Linked DNA regions of Homo sapiens: region 2 is linked to region 1. Evidence: fine-mapped expression QTL. Tissue or cell type: whole blood. Region 1 holds a variant in brackets; the other region holds the start of a gene. All regions are shown on one strand. Distances are from middle to middle.

What was found. PIP is the estimated chance that this variant, and not a neighbour inherited with it, causes the effect.
Region 2: it holds the start of ESYT2, and the variant in region 1 is fine-mapped to the expression of ESYT2 in whole blood (INTERVAL, PIP above 0.99).

Annotation. Positions count from the first base shown.
Region 1 is chr7:158,681,592-158,691,289 of GRCh38, reverse strand. It overlaps NCAPG2 (non-SMC condensin II complex subunit G2), which reads left to right. Exons shown (of 28, transcript NM_017760.7): 5 at 568-722; 6 at 1,337-1,471; 7 at 3,848-3,942; 8 at 5,049-5,118; 9 at 7,904-7,990. Among named protein-coding and RNA genes, the nearest start is that of NCAPG2, 18 kb to the left of the region's middle. The variant A/C (reference allele first, on the strand shown) is at 4,402.
Region 2 is chr7:158,824,124-158,833,821 of GRCh38, reverse strand. ESYT2 (extended synaptotagmin 2) reads left to right here and starts at 4,313. Exons shown (of 23, transcript NM_001367773.1): 1 at 4,313-4,733. The coding sequence starts at 4,404. RefSeq lists enhancers at 3,350-3,459, 5,470-5,539 and silencers at 3,770-4,499, 4,590-4,689, 4,740-4,929, 5,020-5,069, 5,150-5,349.

The DNA of each region.
Region 1 (9,698 bases):
ATTAGTGTAATGACATTCAGATACCTACAGATTATAATTATGAGCATTAGTATCATTAATCTAATTATTGAGCTTTTCTGTTAATAAAAGCACTGCAGTTTTTGTATTCATTATGGTAATTGCTTTGACTGTTTTTCACCTCTGAGCCAAAATTTGAGGCTGGCACATTGAGGGATAGTAGTGGATTATTGATTGGTCAGTAGACCTGTCTTGGCTCTGGTGTTAACAGAGATACCATTGGTGTTGTTACACTGAGGTTTGGTTAGCCTCAGCATCTGCCTTTCTAAAATTGGTGATACGATTTCTCTGAGACTTCCAGTTCCAAAAATCTCTTTTCTATTATGTCTGTTGAGGGTCTTTTTATAACAATCGTCAAACAGTTTTTTAATTAACATTATTTGCATTTTATAACTAATGTATATAAATCTTTGGCAAGTTAAACATAACTAATATTATTTGCTTAGCAAAGCTTTAAATAATATATAAAGTCATGATACTCTAAACTGTTGACTCTGAAGTAATAAGAATTTGCCTTACTAATTGGAAAATTACTGTGCTGTATTTTAGGTATTTTATATGCATTACCTGAGTCTGAACGAAAACTACAGAGTTCTATTCAGGATTTGTGTGTTACCTGGTGGGAGAAAGGCCTGCCTGCCAAGGAAGACACAGGAAAGACAGCCTTTGTCATGTTACTAAGGAGGAGTCTGGAGACTAAGACAGTATGCTCACTTTTTATTTTTTTAAAGACAGGGTCTCTCTCTATTGCCCAGATGGAGTGCAGTGGCATGATCATAGCTCACTGCAGCCTCAAACTCCTGGGCTCGAGCAATCCTCCTGCCTCAGCCTCTCAAGTAGCTGAGACTTCAGGAGTGCACCACCTAGCTAGGACTTTATTTTTAAACGTCTTCCTAACATTCTAAACCTGCGCTATTCAACGTAGTAGCCACTTGCCACAGAAAGCTGTTTAAATTTAAAGTTAAAAATAATGAAAAATTCAGTTCCTCAGTTGCATTAGTCACATTTTAGTAGCTCTACAGTGAAATGTGGCTAATGTCTACTGCACTAGACAGTTCAGATGTATAAAATCTTCATCATCGAGGAAGTTCTTAAACTTGCTGGATTTTTAATTATTTTCCTTATGTTTTAAAAAAATGTTCTGTAGAGCTATAGGGGGCATTTGCAAATTTTAAAATCTGTTTTTATTTGTCGTTATTTTTTAATCTTTGATGAATCAACTAGAATTACCATTATTTATGATATAAAATATACTTGATTTGAAATATGACTTTACTGTTCATTGAAAAAGGTATCACATTTTTTGTGTCATTCCTAGGGTGCAGACGTATGTCGGCTTTGGCGTATCCATCAAGCTTTATATTGCTTTGATTATGATTTGGAGGAAAGTGGAGAAATTAAAGATATGTTACTTGAGTGCTTCATAAATATTAATTATATCAAGAAAGAAGAGGTAAATAGGTATTTGTTTTTTGATCTGTTTGTGAGCTGCTTCTTAATAGATGTTTCTCCTGTGTTCACATGGTTCCTGTCTGCACCATGCTCGGTGTTGCTTAGCTACCAGGAGCTATTTACTGCACATGATTTTTACTGCATGGCAGTACTAGAGAAGACATTTTACAAGTCCTTGCTTATTTCATCATTAAATTGGATGGTAACAGGTGGCTGTGTGTTACCTAGGGGAACCGTAATTACATTTTAAATTAAGAATGATTAAAAATAAGGTTGAGAAAGCACTTCTCTATGAATGAGATCTGGCCTTCTGCCCTAATTCCATTTTAATTGCCATGTACTCAAAACTGTCATCCCATAATATCCTCCCTTTCTTTTTTCTACCCATCCTGTAAATCCAGAGAGGCTTCTGGCCTGTTGCTGCACTGCCCGTCCTGGGGTCAACTCCCATATGAGGCTACTGAGCACCTGAAATGGGACCCAACTGAACTGAGATTAGCCATAAGTATAAAATACACATGGATTTGAAGATTTAGTGGGAAAGAAATGAACATAAAATAGCTCATTAATAATTTTTGTTCTATACTTAATATAATAGACAATATTTTTATTGTCTGTTATATTAAATATTGCTTTACATAAAATATATTATTAAAATTAATCTTCTTTACTTTTGTTAACATGACTACTAAAGAATTGAGAATTACAGAGAGGCTCGCATAGTTCTTCTGTGTTAGGGGCCTTCTGCAGTTGTTTACTGAGCGTCGACTACATGCTCAGGCAGTGCCAGGGGAGACTAGAACAAGCTTTTGCATTTGGATGCTCATGGCTCAGCAGGCACATCTCTGAGGCAGAAGGAGGAAGTCATCCCTCCTCCCTGAAGGAGGTGGAGAAGGGCTTCAGAGGAAGAGGAGGACCAGCTCTGAGGTACAGAATAAGTTTCCTCCAGGTGTCACAGCTGCTCAGCGGCAGAGACAGAACTGGACCCCGGCGAGCCATCTGCAGTCTGCTAGACAAAGGGCCATGTGATTAGGACTGAGACCTTTGGCTCCCAGGGTCTTTGTTCACTTTATAGGTGGTGCCCTTGGTCAGGCCTTTCAGCCTCAGAGTTTTGTTCTGTAAAATAGGAGCAACAGTTACTGTTTCACAGGATTGTTGTTAGGAACAGATGAGGTAATATGTATCAAACCGCAGCCCAGGCGCTGGTGGATAAGAACCCCTGGGGAGGGCTGCCCTTTGCCATCCTTGCTGTGTCAGCACCATCGTTATTACAAAGATGTTGGACACAGCCTGTGCCCCACACATGTCTCCAGGATTGTTCTGAAATGGGAGAGTGAAGAAATTAATGATGGATTCAAACAATAAACTATTTTATGTTGACTTATACATAAGGAGTTGATGAATCGTACTTGTTAACTTATATATGTGTGCAGATATATAACAGACATAAATGTATGTATGTGTTATAACCTCTACCCTTTTTAAAAAATTGATGTCTCCTTTGAATTTAAGATATCTAAATGTAGTTTCCTAATCAATCATTAATTTGGTCAGGTCAGTTTCCAGTCATTCTGGGTAAACCATAAACATCTTGTACTGTACTAACAGATTACTTCCAGTGAATATTACTGTTTTTTTTTTTAACTTGCCTGTTGTGAGCATGGTTACCCTGCATTTGAATCAAAATGTATTGCATTTCTGTAGGATTCCAGTTCTGTGCAGTGGTGTGCTGGTAAGAGATGAAGGTGCTATTCACTGAGAGAGTTCTAGATAGATGCATCTTATGCACTCTATAGAGTATGAAGATTGTATTCATTCTTCTTAGGTTCAGATACATAATCTAGTAGCATGCATATAAATTATCATCACATGATGTATTTATGACTTGAAGACTGTGTATTTGGAAATTCTAGCTTGACAAACACTTAGCCTTTTAACTATATGAGTCCTCAGTTTTCTCATCTATAAATGAGAAGGTGAAATGAACTGGGATATTCAACTCCATTCCCACCCACCTATGCTAGATTTAAAGCTTTCTTTCATTTGAGACTATGGAACCATCCATGACAGAGCCAGAATGAGATGTTTATGGACCCATGGTTACTGTCTGTGGTCTCCATCTCTGCACCTGTGGCCCTTGAGGACAGAGGCGCTCAGTGTAGCGGCTGCTCGGCCCTGGGGGAGGTGGCTTGTGTGGCTCCTGGCTGTGCAGGCCCCGCAGACAGCTCAACTCGTGCATGTGCTCTCAGTGATAATTACATGTGCCTCGTTTTTAGCAATAGCAATGTTTAGCTTACTAGACGTTCAAATAATTGTTTGTTATTTGGCACTTTTTATTTGGTTGCAATGTAAACATTCTATCCTTTTTTATTTCTAGGGAAGAAGATTTCTTAGTTGTCTCTTCAACTGGAATATCAACTTCATCAAAATGATCCACGGGACCATTAAAAACCAGTTACAGGGATTACAAAAGTAAGTGTTAAAAGTACTGAAGATTTTGTGCTGTCTTAATCTGGTTTTGAAAGATTCCATTTGGTCTGACTTCTTAAGTTATAGTAATGGATTAGAAGCTTTAGAAATACGTTATTTATTATGTACCATTGGATCACTGGGTAGCTTTTTCCTTTTATAGGAAATCATTCTTTTCCAGTATTGACCACTGAAATTAAGGTTTTAATTTGTGGTAGTTCTTTAAATAGTTAAAATAGTTTCCAGTTGAACCTTAGCCTCGCTCGTAATAAAGCCATGTCCATGGTACTTTGAATGCAATGTGTGCTTTTTGGTTGAACGTGGCCTGGCCAGGGTGGCTTCTCGGAAGAGCCTGTGGAATCTGCAGGAGCAGCAGGGAACGTTGCAGTCATGACTCTGCCACTCCCTGCGTGATGGAGATGTCAAGTGTGTGCTTGTCGTTTGCCAGGCACAAGGCAGAGT[A/C]CTTCATTTGCTCCAGCACTGAGTACTTAGTCTCCATTTTAAAATTTAATCCTCACAACTCTCTTTTGAGATAGGCTTTGCTTTCTAAATTTCCCAGTGTCAGGCAACTGTATAAGTACCAAGTTGGGATCTGATTCTGGATCTCTGATTGCAAAGCTCCTGTTGTATACTAGATTGCTTTTTCATATTTCCTCATCTTCAGAATATTTGAGTTGAACTAATAGATTTCTAAGCTTATGATTCTTAAGTTGATACTGGTATTTTAGGGCTTCTTGTACCTCAGGAATTGGTAGCGTGAAAAGTCCAACGTGACTCCAAGTCGACAATTTATTTATATTTAAATATTTTTGACTTTAGAATTTTGTTCTGGACTTATGCACTCATAGTTTCACAGAAAATAGTAAAGTTTTGGGTAAGCCTTGACTGAGAAGGATGAAATAGTTCGTCACTTCAGTTTCCTTTCCCAAAACCTTCTCCGTTTTCTACTTTTTGCTACAGGTAGATAACCTATTTCTATAGATGATTTGCAAAGCACTAGTTTAAACTGAGTTTCTTCTTCACTATGGTTGGAGAGTAGCTGAAATGATACATGTTGAAAGAATAATTCTTAAAATTTGCATTAAAACTATTTTGATCTTTTTATATAGGTCTTTGATGGTATACATTGCAGAAATTTATTTCAGAGCTTGGAAAAAGGCTTCAGGGAAAATACTGGAGGTATTTTCATTTTTTTAAATGTTAACACTTATTTTTATTATATTTTAGTTACTAAATAAGTAGTCAAAGAAGGGTTATTTAAGATCCATGTTTATGCACTCTGTCAAAATAAAGCCAAATAATGAAAATCTATTTGATGGGCAATCCAGTCACTTGCTAAGATGTGTGGTTTGTGGGAGGTAGGACTGTGCTCTTTCAGCTGGGAGGGAGCTCTGACCCTGATCTTTCCAGCCATGTGCTCACTGGGCATTTGGAACGTGGCCAGTCTGAATCAAGATGTGTTGTAAGTGTAAGAAACATACCAGATTTCAAAGACTTCATATGGAAATGAGAATATAAAATATCTCAGTACTTTTTAAAAATGTTGAGTGAATGTTGAAATGTTAGTGGTTTGGATGTATTAGGCGAAATGTGGTAGTTGGCCCTTTGTGGGTTTCGCATCCATGGATTCAATCAACCAAGGATCGAAAATATTTGGGAAAAAAATGCATTGTACTTAACATGTACAGACTTTTTTTTCCTTGTCATCAGTCCCTACACATATAGTGTCACAACTATTTCCATAACATTGACACTGTATTAAGTATTATAAGTAATCTAGAGATGATTTAAAGTGTGCAGGAGTGCATAGGTTATATGCAGATACTACTCCACTTTATATGAGGAATTTGAGCATCCGCAGATTCTGGTCTCTGAGGGAGGTCCTAGAACTGATCCCCCATGGATACCAAGGGATGACTGTGTAATATTGAAGTAATTTTACCTGTTTCTTTTGTCTGTTTTTAATGCAGCCACTAGAAAATTTAAAATTGCATCTGTGGCTTGCATTCAGTTTCTATTGGATAGTGCCGTTCAGGGACTTCAAGTCACCTCTTTTAGTTACATTATTTTTGAGAATTTGAAGATATTTTCTTTGATTATGGGTAACTCTGGTGAATACATAGTATTTATGTTATGAAGATAGGGCTATGTAATCCACAATCCCAACTCAACATCCAGATACCCTTTTGGACAAAAAAGTGTGTTTGTTTTCCCTTATATTTTTCTTATACCAGGTTCTCAATCATTTTATTTTTCTCTGAGAATAAAATTTTTACTCTAGGTCAGAAAGGAGCCTCTCACAACCCTGTGTTCTATCCTGACTTTTCATTCCTCTTTGGAGAGCAGGCCCTGCACTGATGGGCAGAGGGAGGAACCTGCAGAGTGGACAGAGGCTGCCCCATGTCTGGGTTTACTTCCATCCTCTCTGCTCCTCTGCACAACTTACACTTGATTTGTATTGCCAAGGTTTATCACTGACTTCTAGAAAATAAAAAATAGGCTGGGCGTGGTAGCTCACGCCTGTAATCCCAGCACTTTGGGAGGCCGAGGAGGGTGGATCACCTGAGGTCAGGAGTTTGAGACCAGCCTGGCCAACATGGCGAGACCCTGTCTCTACAGAAAAATAAACAAAATAAAAACTATTTGACTAGATGTATACAAAATTGGTATCAACAATGTGTATTTCTCAGTCTCACTCCATTCCTCTCTGCCCTCCCTCTCTTTAAGTTTTTCAGGCAAATTCCAGACCTGACATTTCATTTCTACATACTACTTTATTCATCTCTCAAAAATGTGCTTATGGAATGCCATTGTAAGACCTAAAAATGTGACAGTAAATCCTTGGTATTTTTAAAAATAATCAAGCCACATTAAAATTTTTCCAGTGATCTCAAATGTCTCCTTAGAGTTTTTTTGAATTAGGACTCAACAAGTTGCCCACATGGCATTTGCTTGTTATACCATTAAAATCGCTTATTCTAGAGCATTCCTCCCTCCTTTCCTTTTCTTAAAATCTATGCCATTGGCATGTGAGGAAACTGGACCAGTTGTCCTGTAGAATGTTGGCATACTGATAGTTAGCTCTAAAGGTTTGGATTCAACTTTTATGGTACAAATAACTTCCCAGGTAGTGCTGTGTATCTCATCTTTCATTGCAAGTCAGACAATGTGTGGTTGTCCCACATTAAGTGATGCTAAGTGACTTCAGGTGAAGGAAATATTTTCAAATATAATGGGGAAGAGGAACTTGAGCATCTGCAGACTCTGGTTTGTATTAGTATTAACCCTAGGAGCGTTTCCTTAGGTCCTTCCTCAAAGCCACAGAAATCCTGCTCATGTGTGAGGGTGGGCACAGAGTACAGGTACAGACATAGGGTCCACTGGGGTTTTTTGCTACTCTTAGAGGCTAGGCCTTTTCCCAGTTGCTGCACTCTGAGTACCATTAGTGCATGGGGCTGATGAAGGGCTTCCCACACACCTTCCTTGCTCAGCCCTTGTCAACAGTGGCCCTGAAATATCTTATTTACAGTTTCCGCCGTAGAGGTAGTTCTGTTTTTGTTCTGTGGAGGCTGTTGGAACAAATCCAGTCTTCTGAAGGTTGTCCAGGTCAGTGATGAGTCAGAAGAGGGGGCTCCACACTCACCATGCACTCAGTCTCTGAAATTTGTCTGATTTGAACTAGCCTTGAGTGGTAGGTGGAATCTTACATTGCCATTTGGCACAGATTTGATATTTCATCAAATAAAAGAGAAGCAAAGCATTCTCCTTGCTATAAGAAAACCAAAGGGATTCTAAGAAGCATGGACTTAAAATAAGAAAGCTTGGACAAAAGGGTCCAGGTTTTTTTCTCATGAAATATAAGATGGACAGGTCAGACTCTTTGTACTCAAATGCCGCACTGCTTGTCAGGTCGTCAGTAGGACACACACACACCAAGTGCTTTGCATTGCATTTGTTATTTCAGGCGATTGAAAATGATTGCATCCAGGACTTCATGTTCCACGGGATACACCTTCCGAGGAGGTCTCCAGTGCATTCCAAAGTGCGGGAGGTAAGATTGTGAACAGATTGTTTTTGAAATAATGTTTCCTCTGTTTTGTTTTTAGATAATTGTTTTGGTTAAATTTTAAAATTAAGCTTTCACAGACATCAGTTAGGGGGATTTCTCAGAACCTTGATATTTGATGTCTGGCAGTTTTATTCCTGCCACCAAAGTTTTAATGAGGAAAGCAAAGGTGTATTGTTGAGATGGTTAGTATTGTATTTGAATGACCTTAAATTCAATTCTCTGTCTTGAGATTTTCCAGAATTATTGGTTTCTAATGGCCACTATCATTTTTTTCAAAGATCCTAGAGGGTATTTGAAATTATTTTTATTATTTTACTTATTAAATTCCAATTTTGCTCTTCTGCAAACCAAATGAATAAATGTTTTGATTGTTTCTTTTGATATTTTGTTCTGTAAAGGTAATCTCAGAATTTAGATTAATCTCAGAATTTAGATATGAACTTTACCTTTATATTAATAATTGTAAATGGACTGACTAGATAAGATTCTATCATCAGTGCCATTACTACACTGATAGGTGTTTGATGGATCTTAAGGATCCTGGCAGGAGGAATGGGAAAATCTGGTCTGCTGTGTTTATTTAAATTAAGCAGCTGCTGTTGATCAGTGTTCTAACCCATGGGATGCCTTGTTTGCTTGCTGTTAGTTTTGGCAACCATATGTCAAGAAACCAAGTGAATAAAGACTACTCATTTCTTTGTTTTGTTGTAGAGTGAAACTACTGCTATTTATAGAATGTAAATATACTAATTATATTAATTTTGAGTGGATAAGAAAATGTTTCTTTGCATTATTGATGATTTAATTTCAGTTACACAAGGATAAAGAACCCAGAGATTTATCTAGACTACTGAGTTTTCCAGAGGATTTAAAAATCGTGATTGCATATATTTAGGATAAATATATTCAATGAACTCCCTGTCCTACCCACCCCCCACCCCCATCCCAGTGTGGCTTTATTTAGTTGTAGTCAGTTTGGGTTATTTATTTCACATAGATGAGTTGGTGTTTCAAATTTTATTTAGTAGAATTGCATTAAACTATGTATTTATGTAAACTATGTTTATGTAAACTATATGTGTAGTTTATATGTAAACTATGTATGTTTTCATATGTTATTTTTGCTGTGGTAGTCTGAGTAATTAAGATATTATAAGTATAGATATCACTATTTGGTAAATTTATGGAAAAATGCACAAAAAGAATTTAAAGGGAGAATATTAGATTTCACTCAAGTGAAACGTGTTACTCAACTCCAAGTAATTGTTTTTGTCACAACTTATAACACATTATAGTTTCTTCCTCAAATTGTTTTTATTTGATAACTATTAAATTTATCTGATAAGTCATTTTATTGATATTGAAAGAGGTTTCAGGCAGTGCTTCAGACATCATTTGAAATTAAAAATCTCAACATTGTTGATGAAAATGTTCTAGAATTAGACAGTAACAATGGTAGCATAGCTCTAAATATACTGAAAGCCACTGAATTGTATACTTTAAAACAGTAGATTTTGTGGCATGTGAATTAAGTCTTAAGCTGTTTAGAAAATTTTTCTATGAAGCAAGTGTACTGTTGATATCAAAGTTTGATAGTATTGTACACAAAAAGCAAACTATAGACTAATGTCACTTATCACCATCAATACAAACTACAAAATAATAATCAGAAAAAAATAATCCCCATACT
Region 2 (9,698 bases), 140 kb before region 1:
TAGCTGGGACTACAGGCACATGCCACCATGCAAAGATAATTTTTAAATTTTTTGTATAGATGGGGGTCCCATTGTTGCCCAGGCTGGTCTTGAATTCCTGGGCTCAAGCGATCCTCCTGCCTCAGCCTCCCAAAGTGCTGGGATTACTGGTGAGCTACCACACCTGGCCTTGGCCATTCAGTTTCAACATCTGAATTTTGGAAGGGACACATTCAAACCACGGCACCCCCAAATACTCTAAAAACAAGGATCACCTCCACTACACAACCTTCCCAGTGGAGAAATCAATATCAATACATTGTCCAACCCATAGACCCCACCCAAGCTTCACCAACTGTGCCCACACTTCTTTTCCCATGTCTGGGACCTCCCAGGAACATGCATTGCATGGAGTTGTTATGTCTCTTCAGTCTCATATAATCTGGAACAATTCTTAGTCTTATCCTGTCTCTTATGACAATTTATTTATTTGAGAAGGGGTTTCCCTCTGTCACTCAGGCTAGAGTGCAGTGGTGCAATCATAGCTCACTGCAGCCTTGAATTCCTGGGCTCAAGCAATACTCTTGCCTCAGCCTTAGTAGCTGGGACTACAGGCTCGTGCCACCATGCCAGGGCAATTTTTAAGATTTTTTTTTGTAAAGATGGAGTCTTACTACATTGCCCAGGCTGGTCTCGAACTCCCAGCCTCAAGTGATCCTTCTGCCTCAGTCTCCCAAAGCGTGAGCCACTGTTCCTGGCTCATGACAGTAATAAAGAAAACAGAATGGCCTTCCTTCTGGGTCTATCTGATATTCCCTAGGCTAGACTGAGGCTGTGGTTTCTGGCAGAAAAGTGTCAGGCGTGCTGCTGTGCTCTTCTCAGCACAGTGCACGGGGACTCAGTTTCAACTTTTCTCCACTGGTGACAGGTGTCTCATTACCTGGCCACGCTGGTGTCTGCTGGTGTTTCCCACCAGAAAGTCTCAATTTTCCTCTTTGTAATGGAAAAGTATGCTGAAGAAAGATGTCCATTCTCATTCCTCATCAAATCTCCACCTACCACCCTGAGCCTCCATTGATAGCTCACTCCTGCAACAACCCCACTACAGTGATTGGTAAATGGTTATTTCCATTCTCACTCCTGCAACAACCCCACTACAGTGATTGGTAAATGGTTATTTCCATTCTCATAATTCCTTCTCCATTTATGAGTTCACATTCTACTGTAAAGAAGAACCTCCCCTTCTCCACTATTATTTTCCCTGCATTCATCACTGGTTTGTTGATCTACATCAGTGTGGACTCAACTCATGCGTTTCTATTTTGCTCACTCAGTGGTAATCTGCCAATATCATTCTTTGTTTTGTTGCTCAAATTGTCCTAGATTTCGCCAGCAAGAACTCCCTCCAACTACTTTCCATGTCCTTTGATCTCCTGTCAATCTTTGAGCACTTCTTCACTTCCTTGAACAACAAAATTATTCCAGGATCATCTTGTACTTCCACTCCAGCCCTGAAATTAACCATTTCTCCAAAGAGCCCTGATTCCTTTTGTTGGAAAACCTTATTTAGAAGATAAGATCTGGGGGCTAGCTGTGATCACTGGTACTGGGGTACCATTGCATCTAGATACTCAGCAGACAGAACTAGAAACTATTTCTGTGTTTATATGCACATATACCTACACATGTGTGCACACACATACAGCTATCTTTATATCTATCTGTATATACATATTTTAAAAAAATGAGTTCATACTACCACTTCCAGTTCCAATCCAATCCCTCAGTGTTCTTTTTAGCCTTCCCTCTTCCATGTTTTTACCTTCTCCAACAGCAAGAAACCTGGCTTTCACTGTCCCCAGTATATTTAATTTGCTGGTATAACCTCCAAATTGAAGAGATGCAGAGCACGTGCTCCCACCCTCCATAACGAGACGTATTTAGAGGTGTGGGGGAGGACCCAAAAGCAGGAAGAGTTGAACCTAAGCACAAGATAGCACTTTCCTCTGAAACCAGGAAGGCTGGAACTTCGCAGCTGTGCACCGGAGCACTCGGAATGACACTCCAGAGAAAGCAGCACTTCTCCTTGTCTACAAGAAGGAAAGGATGGAGGGGTCATGAAAGGTCACAGGAGATTGAGGGGTATAATATTAGCAAAAATCTAAGAGCCGAGCTGGACCTGCAGTCAGACCAGACACCTGTAAGACTGAGCTGTGGCAGAGCCTTAGGATCTGCTTTCTGCAGGCAATTAACCACAGGGAGGGGCTGGAAACCCGGGGCTCACACAGAGGGAAGCTGAGGACACTTGGGCTGACTGGTATGCAACATGGAAACTTCTCTTCAATCTAGTTTACATCCTTGGGTCAACCACTGGATGGCACATGGCACAGGATTTTTTTTTTTTTCTTGAGACGTAGTCTTGCTCTGTCGCCCAGGCTGGAGTGCAGTGGTGCGATCTCGACTCACTGCAACCTCCGCCTCCCGGGTTCAAGTAATTCTCCTGCCTCAGCCTCCCGAGTAGCTGGGACTCCAGGTGCGCGCCGCCATGCGCGGCTAATTTTTTGTTATTTTTAGTAGAGACGGGGTTTCACCATGTTGGCCAGGATGGTCTTGATCTCCTGACCTCGTGATCTGCCCTCCTCGGCCTCCCAAAGTGCTGGGATTACAGAATTTTTTACGTGGCTTATGTTTATGCAAGTCTTTGTAGGATGTGATCCTACAATTTTCCAGTAGAGGAAAGCTGCAAAAGAAAGGCTCAGGCTCCTTTCTGTGTCAACAAAGCAATTACTTGCTTTTGTGTTGAGGCTTAGTTTTGAATGAAAGGTGGTGTTAGGAGCATTAACCGGTTGCATATTTACAATCTACATAATATAATTTGTTGCTGCAGCAAACCAGGGACTGTGAAGAGTAAGAAAAGGGAAACCACTTCCATTCCTTGCTTGGGGTTTACTGCCCTTGCCTGGAGTTGAGAGTTTAGACTCTGCAATGTTTTACATATGTGATATAATCTCCACATACATATGCACACAAAATTATGAAGACGCAGGAACGAGGGGAGACAGATTCCTATGTAAAGGTGACCCTGCTTCTTCTGGGCATTTGTTTATTCATTCAGTACCTGCCAGTGCCCTACTCTGTTACAAATTCAGTAAAAATTTCCTTGGAATTCACTGAATATGCTCAAAAACAGTCAAGTAGGATGTTCTTTGCTACTGTTTGGCTTGGAGTTTCCTTGAAAGAAACTACAGAACAAATATAATTAACTCGATTGAATTCACTGGAAAGTAAAGTGATCAATAGTTGTGTTTTTGAGTTAACTGAAAAGTGACCTCAGGAATCACAGGAAAGGCCCAAAATTAGTCGTTTGAAACAGCTATTCATAGTTGGCCACAATATTAACACCTTCGGCGAAGCTGCGTGGTGCCCGGGGTGGAGTTCCCGAGTGTCAACAGCGTCCCTTGGGCGCTTGCGGTGGTCTTTGCCCGGCACTACCAGACCCCTCAGGGAGGACTTTTGGGATTAAAGGCATCTTAAAAGCCAACTGAACTGTGTGAGAGTTGTCAAGGTCACAACGGAGTCGTTTGTGTTTAAAACCCTGACAAGCAGGGTGGGAAGGGCCCCAGAGGCAGCGTTCTCACGCCGGAATGCCCGATAACAAGACCGTCCCGAGAGACTCCGCAAAAGCCACAACCTTGCACACTGGCTAGGCAACCTCACACCGAAAAATACCGGAGGACTCCCGCCAGCGGCGCCCGTCCGACCTCCGGCGGGCGGCGCCCTCTCACCCGTCCTCCTGGCCGCAAAATGACCGCAAACAGGGACGCCGCCCTCTCATCCCACCGCCACCCCGGCTGCGCTCAGCGGCCGCGCACCCCCACGTTTGCCAGCAGCTCCCAGAGGCGGTCAGCCTTTGGGTTTGACGACGGCAACTTCCCGGGCCTCGGCGAGCGCAGCCACGCACCCGGAAGCCGCCTCGGGGCGCGACGCCGAGCCAAAACCGCCCGCGGGCTCCGAGGCCACAGGCAAGTGGGGAGGGTGCCCCGTGGGGCTCGAGGGGACGCAGGCACGCCCAGCCCACGCACCGAGCACTCTCCTTTCCCGTCCCCGGCTCCCGCCAGCCGAGACACAACGCTCGCGTGATGACGTCGTGCGCCTGCCCGGCCCACTCCAGTAGTCTCCGACCCGGCCCACGGCCCGCCCCGCGCGATGACGTCAGTATCCACCCCGCCCGCTCCCGGTGACGTGCCAGCCCCAGGCCCACGCCGCTCCCGCCCCGCGTGATGACGCCACCGTCCCGGGCGGAGGCGGGCGTGCGGCGGAGCCGCGTCCCCTCAGAGGGGCGCTGGCGCGGGGCTGAGCCGCCCGGGATCAGCGCGAGCACCCAGCCCGCCTCGGCCGGGAGGGCAGCGCGGCACTGCGGGGCGATGAGCGGCGCCCGGGGCGAGGGCCCGGAGGCGGGCGCCGGCGGGGCTGGGGGCCGCGCGGCGCCTGAGAACCCCGGGGGCGTGCTGAGCGTGGAGCTGCCCGGGCTGCTGGCGCAGCTGGCGCGGAGCTTCGCGCTGCTGCTGCCCGTGTACGCGCTGGGCTACCTGGGGCTCAGCTTCAGCTGGGTTCTCCTCGCGCTCGCGCTGCTCGCCTGGTGTCGCCGCAGCCGCGGCCTCAAGGCCCTGCGCCTGTGCCGCGCGCTGGCGCTGCTGGAAGACGAGGAGCGCGTCGTGCGCCTGGGGGTGCGCGCCTGCGACCTGCCCGCCTGGGTGAGTGCAGACCCCTGCCCGTCCCGACCCCTGACCACCAGTCCCGATCTCCCCTCGTCCAGGCAGGCACTCCCCTCCCCGCGACCTGCCGCCTGGGTGAGTGCAGACCCCAGCCCTGCCCCGGCTCCCGCCTTCGTAGTCCCCCACCCACCCCGGTCCAGGCAGGCGCTTCCCTTCCGCCTGGGCGAGTGCAGACCCCAGCCCCGGCCCCCGGGCCGGTTCCTGCGACCTGCCAACCTAGGTGAGTGCAGACCCCGCCCCGCCCCCCGGCCCCGACTCCCAGCCTGCTGGCGACCTGCCCGCTAGGGCGAGTGCAGACCCCAGCCCCGCCCCGGCCTCCGGCCCACTCCCTGCGAACCTGTCCGCCTGGGGCCGCCGCCCGCTGCTCGCCGCTCCCGCCCTAGTCCTGAGTGCTCCGTGCCCTCCCTCCGTCCAAGTCGGGCGTCCCCTTCTCCGCTTCCCCGCCCGCCCAGGCTCCGGGTCCGGGGCGCGTCTGCCCTCGTGAAGCCTCCCCTCGCCGTCCCGCGCGGCTTTCTCGGAGACCCCTCTTCACAAAGCCCGCTTCCCTCCCCCGGCCTGCAGACCCCGAGCGCCAGCGGCAGGTACCGGGCTTGGCGCCCCCTCTTCGGCCGCGGCCCTGCCCGGAGCGCGCGCTTCCTCCTGGTGCCGCCCGCGGGGTCTCCTTAGGGGCCTGAGCGGCCGGTTCTGCTCTCAGAGCGCCCAGCGCGATTCTCGTGCGCATTCCCAAAGCCCTGCCGGCCTGGAAATGCTCCGGGTGGCTTCAGCTTTTCCTTCTCTCTGTTTTTTAAAAAACGTAATGACAGCTGGTGGGGGAGAAGTTAACTTTTTCTTCTACCGGGAGAAGACGCACTCGTGTCTTGGTTGTTTCTGACGCATTTCAAGGGCAGTAAGTGTCTCTCGAAAGATGTGGAGATATTAGATAATTGAAAGATTGTTTCAGTTTTTTTGCAAGTATAATTGTGAGACTGAGCATTTTTATATGGGATCGACCTGAATCCAGTGTGAATGTGTGTGTGTGTGGCAGGAAGTTTTGGAAGAGTTGCAGCAATAACAAGAGTCATGGTATTATTTTATTTTTAACCCGGCAGTTCTCTACCTCGTATATTTATGGACTATAGACACGAAGAGTTGGCTTCAAATCTTTTTCTTGTCATTCCCTAATTCTTTCTTAGCCATGACTTGGCTTCACAGTTTCACACTGCAAGAAAGGATTTTAATGATTCTTCCATTAGGCTTAATATAAACTTTGGGGTGAAGGTGACCAGCAGTGGGTTTCGGAAGGGTCATTTTCTCTTAGAGGAGAAAAGTCCCTGTTTCCAGTCATGAGACACCTGAGAAGTAAGGCATGACACAGATGGCAAACAAGAATTAGAAAGGAGGCGTGCCCAAGACAAGAAGAAGGTAGTAGATGCTACTTTGTGACGTCATATTGCAACTGGAGTAAGAATATAATGTAAGGAGCTTGGGAATGTACAGTTCTGCCGATGCGTGGTGAGCATGAGGGAGTCATATTTGGAGAACCAAGGTAACTGGCATGGTGCAGCTTTTAGCTAGCGGCGGGAAAAACCGAGGGGTGTGTAGAAAAAGGAAGTTAAGAGGAACCGAGGTGGGGAAAACTAAGAACAGAGGAGGTGCACTTTGGAAATGGAAAAGGACTTTAAAGTGACGTTTTGTGTCTATATTACACTAAGATGCATAATACTAAAAAGTAGCTAAAAACAGAGTCCATTAGCATCCATTGCTATGTTATATTGATAACATAGCAATGTTATCAGTGCTGAAATTTGCAGGAAGTGATGATGCTGACTTTCATAGATACTTGGTTATTGGCTAATATCAAATTTGCTTGTTAAAAATCTTTGTGAAACACAGATTTTCTTTTTCTTTTCTTTTTTTTTTTTTTTTGAGACAGAGCCTCTCCCTGTTGCCCAGGCTGGAGTGCAATGGCGTGATCTCGGCTCACTACAACCTCCGCCTCCAGGGTTCAAAAGATTCTCCTGCCTCAGCCTCCCGAGTAGCTGGGATTACAGGCGTGCACCATCACGCCCAGCTAATCTTTGTATTTTTAGTAGAAACAGGGTTTCACCATGTTGGCCAGGCTGGTCTCAAACTCCTGACCTTGTGTTCCGCCTGCCTTGGCCTCCCCAAGTGCAGGGATTACAGGCGTGAGCCACCGCGCCCGGCCACACAGACTGTACAGATGAAATTGCTGCCCTATTGAAGAACTGAAATTTTTTTTTTTTTTTTTGAGACGGAATCTCGCTCTGTTGCCAGGCTGAAGTGCAGTGGCACCATCTCAACTCACTGCAACCTCCGCCTCCCGGGTTCAAGCCATTCTCCTGCCTCAGCCTCCCGAATAGCTGGGACTACAGGCGCACACCACCACACCCAGTTAATTTTTGTATTTTTAGTAGAGACTGGGTTTCACCATGTTGGCCAGGATGGTCTCGATCTCTTGACCTCGTGATCCACCCGCCTCAGCCTCCTAAAGTGCTGGGATTACAGGTGTGAGCCACTGCGCCCAGCCTGAAATTCTTTAAAAAAAAAAAAAATACAAAAGTAATTTAGCCAAAGATTCTTTTCAAGTTTTTAATCTGTGTGACTTAAACTGATGAACTGTGGTGTTCACCTCATGAAGAATTTATATTTTCTCCAGAATGTTTTACTTGTTTATTCCAAATTTGTACTTGAGCTCATAATCCCACATGTGTAAACTTCAGTGTGCCTAGGATGCTTAAGACGCTTCTTGAAGGATTCACATGAAACTTGACAGTGATTATGTTGACAGTTTTAGAGAGATTTTAAAAATATCTTTTAAATTATACTTATGTATCTATTTTGTGATATTTATTAAAAGTGTAATATACTTTATTTTCATAATAAAACCAGCAGGTTGCATGGTCTCGAAGTGTGCCTGAAATTCTGCTGCGCGGCAGGGGTGGTGGGGGTGGTCAAAGCACATCAATAATAGAAGAAACTATGAATAAGAAAAGTTAAGATTTCAGTATTACTTGCACTTTGGGTTTGTTTTTGTTTTTTTTTTTTTCTAGAGATGAGTTCTTACCGCGTTGTCCAGGCTGGTCTCAAACTTTTGGCCTCGAGGCATCCTCCCACTTAGACTTCCTAAAGTGTGGGGATTACAGGTGTGAGCCACCATGCCTGGCCAATATTACTAGTACCTTGATTTTTACCATACATACATTGGTGCTTGGGGTTTCTGAACTTTGGACTGGTATTTTGCCTTGAACAAGATGTATCTGTACATCCCAAAGGCTGTACTTGTTTTCATAGTGTGTCGTTGACAACCGTGAATTCATGGCAGAGTGGAAACATAGGAAAACATGAATTAAGGAGATACTAATTTCCTCACCTCACCTTTGTATATATTCACTGACAGCTTTTCTTCTTACTGAGTAAAAACTGAAGCTGGATATGGAAATGAGATAAGAGTATTAATACTTTGAGAAACTATATGTACTGTTCCTGATTGAGGCTATTAGGATGTGACAGATGGCTCTCACTTAACTGTGATAATTCTGTAAGTTTGGTCCTACAGCTTTAATATAAACAGTGTTGTTATTCTTCACTTCTTTTCCCATGAACAGTTATGTTCCAACTGCTTAGGGGAAAGGCCTGGCAGGCTGGATGAATTGAGGACAGGGCTTTTTGTTGTTTAAGTGTCTACCCTGTGGTAATGGGCCCTGGACCATTAGACTACCCTGGGTGAAGAAGAGAAGATTTATTTATTTATTATTTCATTTATTTATTTATTTTTGAGACGGAGTCTCACTCTGTTGCCCAGGATGAAGGGCAGTGGCATGGTCTCGGCTCACCGCAACCTCTGCCTCCCGGGTTTAAGCGACTCTCCTGCCTCAGCCTCCCAAGTAGCTGGGAGTACAGGCGCCCGTCACCACGTCTGGCTAATTTTTGTGTTTTTAGTAGAGACAGGGTTTCACCATGTTGGCCAGGCTGGTCTCAAACTCCTGACCTCAGGTGATCCACCAGCCTTGGCCTCCCAAAGTGCTGGGATTACAGGCATGAACCACCGCGCCCAGCCTTTTTTGTTTTTTAAAGAGAGGCGGTTCTCGCTGTGTTCCCCAGGCTTGAACTCTTGGGCTCAACTCTTGGGCTCAAGCGAACCACCTACGTGAGTCTCCCAAGTAGCTGGGATTACAGTTGCATGCCACCATGCTCAGGGCTGTGAGGAAGATTCTTGAAGAGTTTTTATAGAGATTAATAAGGGCAATTTTTCATTACTATTTTTATTTATTTGAAAATATTATCTCTTCATAGGATAAAGTCTGACTCTATCCTGCTTTTACTATTGCCAATAAATGCTGATTGTATGGCTGCTATGGATAATACTGTCACGGATAATACTACTTAACTGTTCTGACAGTTGGTCTTTTATTACCCTCATACTTGGATTATTGAGAATTAAAGCATATTAGCTTCCTTGGTTATGTTGTTCTGTACTTTTGTATACAAACTTTCTCTGGGGAGAGCTTTCTTCCCATTGCCCTTCTGGGAAGTTCAGGAAAATTTAACTCTAGCAAAAATATGGTATGTATAGTCTAAGAACTAAATGAACAGAAGAAAATAATGCACTGTGATCTCATGTAAAGAAAGGGCAAATATTTTTTTATTCTCAGTGTTAATCATTGACTTAATACTTTAATAAAATATTGTGAAGACTTGTAACTGAAAATAGTTGGCATAGCTAATTCAGGAGCCACAATTTAGCTATTTTAAACAAGTGCTTCTTCAGCACCTGAATCCGAGTGGTCATGTGGTTGAGGAAGTGTTGGAGTCCTCATCGTAGCTGCAGATAGGATGAGGATGCTGCTTGGGTTTCTTGTTCACACCCACACTGCGGCTGAGACACAGAAGGGAAAGGATGTGACCGTTGTTGCTTCAGTTCTGTGGTCTGAGAACCTCCTTCAG